2 linked regions of the Homo sapiens genome follow. The protein of the gene in region 2 interacts with the protein of the main gene of each other region in a pairwise test. Each region holds a gene or a part of one and is shown on either strand. Other genes may lie near its edges.

What was found.
Region 1: the proteins of WDR47 (region 2) and CHFR interact in a two-hybrid assay, tested with the Homo sapiens proteins (one large-scale study listed by IntAct).

What each region holds. Positions count from the first base shown.
Region 1 is NC_000012.12:132,842,525-132,846,339, forward strand, and holds part of CHFR (E3 ubiquitin-protein ligase CHFR), read right to left. Parts: intron 1,611-3,815; coding exon 1,503-1,610; intron 560-1,502; coding exon 487-559; intron 1-486. UniProt on the Homo sapiens protein: E3 ubiquitin-protein ligase that functions in the antephase checkpoint by actively delaying passage into mitosis in response to microtubule poisons.
Region 2 is NC_000001.11:109,014,591-109,018,405, forward strand, and holds part of WDR47 (WD repeat-containing protein 47), read right to left. Parts: intron 3,012-3,815; coding exon 2,928-3,011; intron 1-2,927.

The sequences.
Region 1 (3,815 bases), on a different chromosome or scaffold from region 2:
TCACCTAACCTAAGAGATGCCTCCTGACCTACGCCTCCCAGGGCAATGCAGATGGCGCTGTGAACCTCCTTTAAGGAGCACGGGAAAGACACCACGTGAGGGTGACGATGTGACAGCAATCACAAATGCCTGCTCACGGGACGGACGAGAACCCAGCTGTGCAGCGCTTTGCGAGGGGGGCCTGAGGCCCTCAGTGACTGCAGCCTTCGACTTAGAAACGGCTAAGCCTGAAATGATGGGGTGTGCCCCGGATGCCTCAGACAACAGATAAAGCTACTCCAGCCAGGAAGACACAGAAGTGGAAGACGGAGATAAAACTGCATGAAACGAAGGGATAAAGGAAGAGCAGGATTTCTAAATGAAGATACCGGTTCCTAAAGGATGCAACCTGAGAGAAGCATAATGACCATATCAGCCTATTTATAAGCAGGCAGTTAACTCATTCATCACTCTGTAGCTGACGCCTGTGCCCCCAGCTGCACTCACATGGCGTGGTGAGCTTTCACCTGAGTGCGGCAGTTACGGCCCCAGTAGCAGTCAGGACGGGATGTTACGGCCACTGGAAAAAGAGAAGGGGTACGCATCTATGAGATGTATTGCACGCACCCACTCAGCTACCTGAATCCCAGCAGAGACCCAACGACAGACGCTGCGGTGGAAACGCACGGCCTCTGGTCCCTCCATAACTAGTTTCCTCGGACCGTTCTGAGATTTCAGGAAAGGAAACACATGTTTAACTAAAAACCCAACTGAGGGTCAGGTACAGTGGTTCATGCCTGTAATCCCAGCACTTTGGGAGGCAGAGGCAGGAGAATCGCTTGAACCTGGGAGAGGGAAGTTGCAGTGAGCCAAGATCACACCACTGCACTTCAGCCTGGGCGACAGAGTCAGACTCTGTCTCAAAAATAAATAAATAAATAAAAATTAAAAAATAAAAACCCAATTGAGGAAATAAAATTACCCCAGTTGACTATTGGATGTCTTTACAAATCTGTTTTAGAAACCCACGTTACACTCATGAGTAACTGCAAATAGACCCAGGGCCTAAAACAACCACAGCCCTGTATGGCCTGACGTCCTGCCGGCTCCTGACTGAGGCCAAATTCTGCTTAGAACATTGAGCAAAGTGCAAACAGGGTGTCTGTAAAGAAAAGAGTGCTGGCCGAGCGTGGTGGCTCATGCCTGCAATCCTAGCACTTTGGGAGGCCGAGGTCAAGAGTTCGAGACCAGCCTGGCCAACATGGTGAAACCCCGTCTCTACTAAAACACAAAAAATTAGCCGGGCGTGGTGGCGGGTGCCTGTAATCCCAGCTACTCAGGAGGCTAAGGCAGAAGAATTGCTCGAACTCAGGAGGCAGAGGTTGCAGTGAGCCGAGATTGCACCACTGCACTCCAGCCTGGGCAAAAACAGCGAAACTGTCTCAAAAAAAAAAAAGAGAGGCAGAAGCCAAGAAGCCAACCCAGACAGAACTAGAGCCATGAGGAAGTCGGGGGCTCCTTACCTGGCAACTCGGAAGCAGGAATGTTCTGCCGATACTGATAGGTCAGCTCACGGAAGCTGCGCAGGCCACAGCAGTAACACAGAACGGTGTCTCCCGTGACTCTGTAATCTGGAAGAAACACAGCCAGTTACCCAGCAACACCATCTTCCCAACAGCAGCGCACGGACTTCACAGCAGTGGGAGACTAACGCACTGACCATAAATGGGGTGAAGACAACGGGCGACACATTAGGAAAATAAGAACAAAGCCAATCTAGATACGAATTTATTTTTATTGAGACGGAGTCTCGCTCTGTCGCCCTGGCTGGAGTGCAGTGGTGCGATCTCGGCTCACTGCAAGCTCCGCCTCCCGGGTTCACGCCATTCTCCTGCCTCAGCCTCCTGAGTAGCTGGGACTACAGGTGCCCGCCACCACACCGGGCTAATTTTTTGTATTTTTAGTAGAGACTGGGTTTCACCGTGTTAGCCAGGATGGTCTCGATCTCCTGACCTCGTGATCCACCCGCCTCGGCCTCCCAAAGTGCTGGGATTACAGGCGTGAGCCACTGCGCCCGGCCACCAATTTATTTTCTTACAGCAAAACAATCCCACGTGGATATAACATTTATTTTATTTATTTTTTGAGACCAAGTCTTGCTCTGTCGCCCAGGCTAGAGTGCAGTGGCGGGGTCTCAGCTCACTGCAACCTCCACCTCCTGCGTTCAACTGATTCTCCTGTCTCAGCCTCCCGAGTAGCTGGGACTACAGGTGTGTGCCACCGTGCCCGGCTAATGTTTATACTTTTTTAGTAGAGATGGGGTTTCACCATGTTGGCCAGGCTGGTCTCAAACTCTTGTCCTCAGATGATCCGCCCGCCTCGGCTTCCCAAAATGCTGGGATTACAGGCGTGAGCCTCCACGCCCGGCCCCACATGGATATAAAATTTAAATATTAAAACTCCCAAAAAACAAGAAGAAAATGAGAAAATTAGCTATTTCTAAGTATGTCTTGAAAACCAAATTGCACAGAGGAAAGGATTTGTACATTTGGCTATCTACAATTTAAACATCAAAATTAAAATAAATACAACAAAAGTGAACTACTACTATAGTGGAAACATTTGCAACACAAATGAAAATGTGCTATACCCTTAATTAACAAAGATATCGGCCAGGCACGGTGGCTCGCGCCTGTAATCCCAGCACTTTGGGAGGCCGAGGCAGGCGGATCACAAGGTCAGGAGTTCGAGACCAGCCTAACCAAGATGGTGAAACCTCACCTCTACTAAAAATACAAAAAAAAAATTAGCTGGGCATGTTGGCGGGTGCCTGTAATCCCAGCTACTCAGGAGGCTGAGGCAGGACAATTGTTGAACCTGGGAGGCGGAGCTTGCAGGGAGCTGAGATTGTGCCATTGCACTCCAGCCTGGGTGACACAGCAAGATTCCATCTCAAAAAAAAAAATAAATAAATAAATAAAAATAAAAAAACTAAGATTAGCCAGGCATGGTAGCACACGCTTGTGGTCCCAGCTACTTGGGAGGCTGAGGTGAGATGATCTCTTGAGCCCAGGAGGTCGAGGCTGCAGTGAGCTGTGATCATGCCCCTGCACTCCAGCCTGGGCGACAGAGCAAGAACCTGTCTCATATATATATTTCTACAGCCTCCCTTAGTGATAAATTATCATACTCCACAAAGCATCGTGTGCCCCCCTGGAGAGGAGTGACCCTCACCAAGTGACTGACACATCAAGCAAGAGATTCACCAAGTCCCCGAGGGTCCCAGGACAACTGACCCCAGGACCTCTGGATAGACAAGTGGTAGAGACCCTCCAAGCTGGCCCCACCTGTTGGAGGCCACACAAATGTTTCTTATGATTAGGCATAATTGAAGCCTGTCAGTAACAGTATGAACCTGTGATCAATTTAGCAGCTGCCCAGTTGTTACCTCCTCCTTGCTCTTGTTACCCAATAAATATGAAGGGCTGTAGAAGCTCAGGGGCAGCCTTTACTCACTAGAAGCAGGGAGCTCTCCTCTTCTTCCCCATGTTGCCTTTCCTTAAAAGTTTCTTTTGTCTTTTTGTTTTCATTTCTACGTTTGTCCCTTTGTTCAGTCCTGTAATGATGGTCTCAAGCAGTAACAGCAGTAACTGCTGTAGTGAGGGTCTCAAGCAGCAGTAGTGGCAGTCGGCCACACCCACCCTCCCCTACAAGGATAGAAGCTGCTGGAATATGTCATACAGGTTCATGCTTAACTGTCTTTTTTTTTTTTTTTTTGAGACGGAGTCTCGCTCTGTCCCCCAGGCTGGAGTGCAGTGGCGTGATTTTGGCTCACT
Region 2 (3,815 bases):
CCCGGCCAATTTTTAAAATTGTTTTGTAGAGACCGGGTCTCACTTTGTTGCTCAGACTGATCTCAAATTCCTGGCTTCAAGCAATTCTCCTGCCTCAGCCTCCCAAAGTGCTTGGATTACAAGTATGAGCCACTGCACCTGGTCCCAATTTAAAGCTTTTTAACAAGAGTTTTTCAGAGGGGAAGGGATAGCAAAGAGTCTACCTAACCTGTCTAAGAATCAAAAGCTTTATTGCCTGAAGCAATTTATAGAAAAAGTGTTTCCAAGTCTGGAAAGAAAAAAATAATGAACCTTCAGTCATTCTTTCAGCCACTGTTGTAGTAGCAAATTGTGTCCAATAAAACAAAATCCCTGCCTTCAAAAAGAGGGTCACCTAATAAATTATATGAAATATTCAGAGTTCAGCAAGGCCTCAAAAAAGTATGAAACCAATTGTACAAAAGAGGTGGAAAGTTAACAAAAAAAAGACATAACAACTGACTCTCAGAAGACAATCAGAAGTGTACCAGGTAAAGGCAGGAGATGGTGAAGGGATTAATATTCCAGGTAAGTAAAGAATGTACAAACGCAAAGAAATATCAAGCAGCATGGTCTGAATAGCAAATCAAAAAATAACAACAGGTTCAACTTCTGATAGTGATAGAGTAACTTATATCTGGCTAACATTTCTGCATATAACAACAATAAATCTTACATAAAATACCAAAAAAAGGTGATTTTATTTATTTGTTTGTTTATTGATTGACTGATTGAGACAGAGTCCTGCTCTGTCGCCCAGGCTGGAGTGCAGTGGCACGATCTCGGCTCACTGCAACCCCTGCCTCCCAGTTTCAAGTGATTCTCCTACCTCAGCCTCCCAAGTAGCTGGGATTACAGGCATGTGCCACCACATCCAGCCAATTTTTTTTTGTATTTTCAGTAGAGACAGGATTTCGCCATGTTGGCCAGGCTGGTCTCCAACTCCTGACCTCAAGTGATCCGCCTGCCTCGGCCTCCCAAAGTGCTGGGATTACAGGCGTGAGCCACCACGCCTGGCCTCAAAAAATGACTATTTTGAATGCATTTGAAAAGCTGGCACAACTAGAGGGAAGTCAATCCTTAAAAAAAGAGAAATTTGCCAGGTGCGTTGGCTCAAGCCTGTAATCCCAGCACTTTGGGAGGCCAAGGTGGGTGGATCACGAGGTCAGGAGCTCGAGACCAGCCTGACCAACATGGTGAAACCCCATTTCTAACAATACAAAAATTAGCTAGGCACAGTGGTGCATGCCTGTAGTCCCAGCTGCTCGGGAGGCTGAGGCAGGAGAATCGCTTGAACCTGGGAAGCAGAGGTTGCAGTGAGCCAAGATCGCACCACTGCATTCCAGCCTGGGTGACAGAGTGAGACTCCATCTCAAAAAAAAAAAAAAAAAACCCAGAAATTTAAGGGGTTATATTCAACAGCATAAGGCTTTCCAGCTGAGGGCACTCCCCAGTTCACACAGTGTGAGCTAGAACTCAAACAGAAGGCTGTAGCTTGAAAAGTCTGGTACTGACTGAACAAAGTGGCTCATACTTGTAATCCTAGCACTTTGAGAGGCCAAGGCAAGAGGATTATTTGAGCCCAGAAGTTCGAGACCAGCCTGGGCAACAAAGTCAGACCTGGTCTCTACAAAAAATTTAAAAATTAGCCTAGCGGGGTGGCACACGCCTGCAGTCCCAGCCACACAGGAGTCTGAAGCAGGCAAATCACTTGAGCCCAGGAGGTAAGGCTACAGTGAGCTGTGTTCACACCACTGCACTCCAGCCTGGGCAACAGAATGAGACCCTGTCTCAAAAAAAAAGTTTGGTACTGCCAGAGCAGCTAAAAAATGAGAGGAAGATCCAAAAAAAGGACGACGTCACAGTAGGAAACATACCAAAATCTACTGTATAAACTTAGGTACCCATATCCCTGGCTATCCCCTAAACTGTGAAGATGCAAGGGAGACTCCAAGGAGCCTGGAGAAAACAGATGAAAGGCCAAAGAACTGAGCAGAGATTTCGGGACAAATCTCTGGTATCCACAAGAGGGGAGAAAGAGTTTGCATTTTGAGGCTACCTAAGTTAAATAACTGCCTGTATGAAAATCAAACTTTTTATGTAGGAAGAGAACAGAATTCAGAGCCTCAAGAGTGAAGCTGAAATGTGCAGATTACATTTACAAAATAATTAGATATAGTTAAAAAAAAAAACAAAAAGTGACTCCCAGTTAGGAGAAAAGGCAATCATTAGAAACTGAGCCTGATATAAGCAAGCACAAGTCCAAATTACCAAACAAGGACTACACTAGCAAACAAGCAGCTACTCTCAGTATGTTGAAGGACCTAAAGAAAAATATAATCATAATGAATGAACAGATGGAAAAATCTTACAAAAAAATTATACGAATTTGAAAATGAAAAGCACAATATTCAAAATGAAAAATTCACTGTTGAATTTGAAGCTGCAGTGCCACATACATGCCACTGCACATCAGCCTGGTGGTAGAACAAGAACCTGTTTTTAAAAATTCACAATTTATCAACAGATTGCTAATAGCAAAAGAAAGGGTCAGTGAACATTAAATCAACTTAAAATAATCCAAATGAACACAAGGGAAGCCTGGGCAACATGGTGAAACCCTAACTCTAAAAAAAATACAAAATTAGCTAGGCTGATGGTACACGCCTGTATAGTCCCAGCTACTTGAGAGGCTGAAGTGGGAGGATTGCTTGAGCCCAGGAGACCAAGGCTGCAGTGAGCTGTGATCATGCCACCACACTCCAGCTTGGGTGACAGAGAGAGATCAATTTGTTTACTCTCTGTTCAAGGCCAGTGGAGAAAGAAAAATGAAAATGAAAATTTTTGTTCATTGTTTTGCTAAGCTTCTACCAATGATGAGACACTAAAAACTTTAGATAAAATCTTACCTTTTTTTGTCAAATTTTTCCATACATTCTAGAGGCTGAATGAACTGAAGAACTTCATCCCATTGACCATCAAGTATTAGCTGCCTAAATAAAAAATTTAAAAAAACCAGCATGTCACCAAATTCAGGTTATACTAATTAAAAGCAGAACAGATGACAAAACAGCATTCAAACTTCATAAAGCACACAATGAGATTAACATTTTATTTGATTCCTCAAATAAATTTTTCATAATTTTTTTTTTTTTTGAGACAGAGTGTCGCTCTGTTGCCCAGGCTGGAGTGCAATGGCACAATCTCGGCTCACTGCACCCTCTGACTCCTGTGTTCAAGCGATTCTCCTGCCTCAGACACCCGAGAAGCTGGGACTATAGGCTCGCACCACTAAGCCCCACTAATTCTTTTCTATTTTTAGTAGATACAGGGTTTCACCATGTTGGCCAGGCTGGTCTCAAGCTCCTGACCTCAGGTGATCCACCCACCTCAGCCTCTCAAAGTGCTGGGATTACAAGCGTGAGTCACCTCACCTGGCCTAAATTTTTCATAACTTATTTGTAACAACATACACTGTATGAGAAGAATTTGTGAATCTGCAACCACTCATACTAACTATATATATGTGGGTTTTGACCTATGTAAAAACATTGGACATGCCAGGCGTGGTGGCTCACACCTGTAATCCCAGCACTTTGGGAGGCCAAGGTGGGCAGATCACCTGAGGTCAGGAGTTTGAGACCACCCTGCCCAACATGGCGAAACCCCGTCTCTACTAAAAGTACGAAAATTAGCTGGCCGTGGTGGCGGGCGCCCGTAATCCCAGCTACTGGCAGGAGAAGCTTGAACCTGGGCGGCAGAGGTTGCAGTGAGCCAAGATCACGCCACTGCACTCT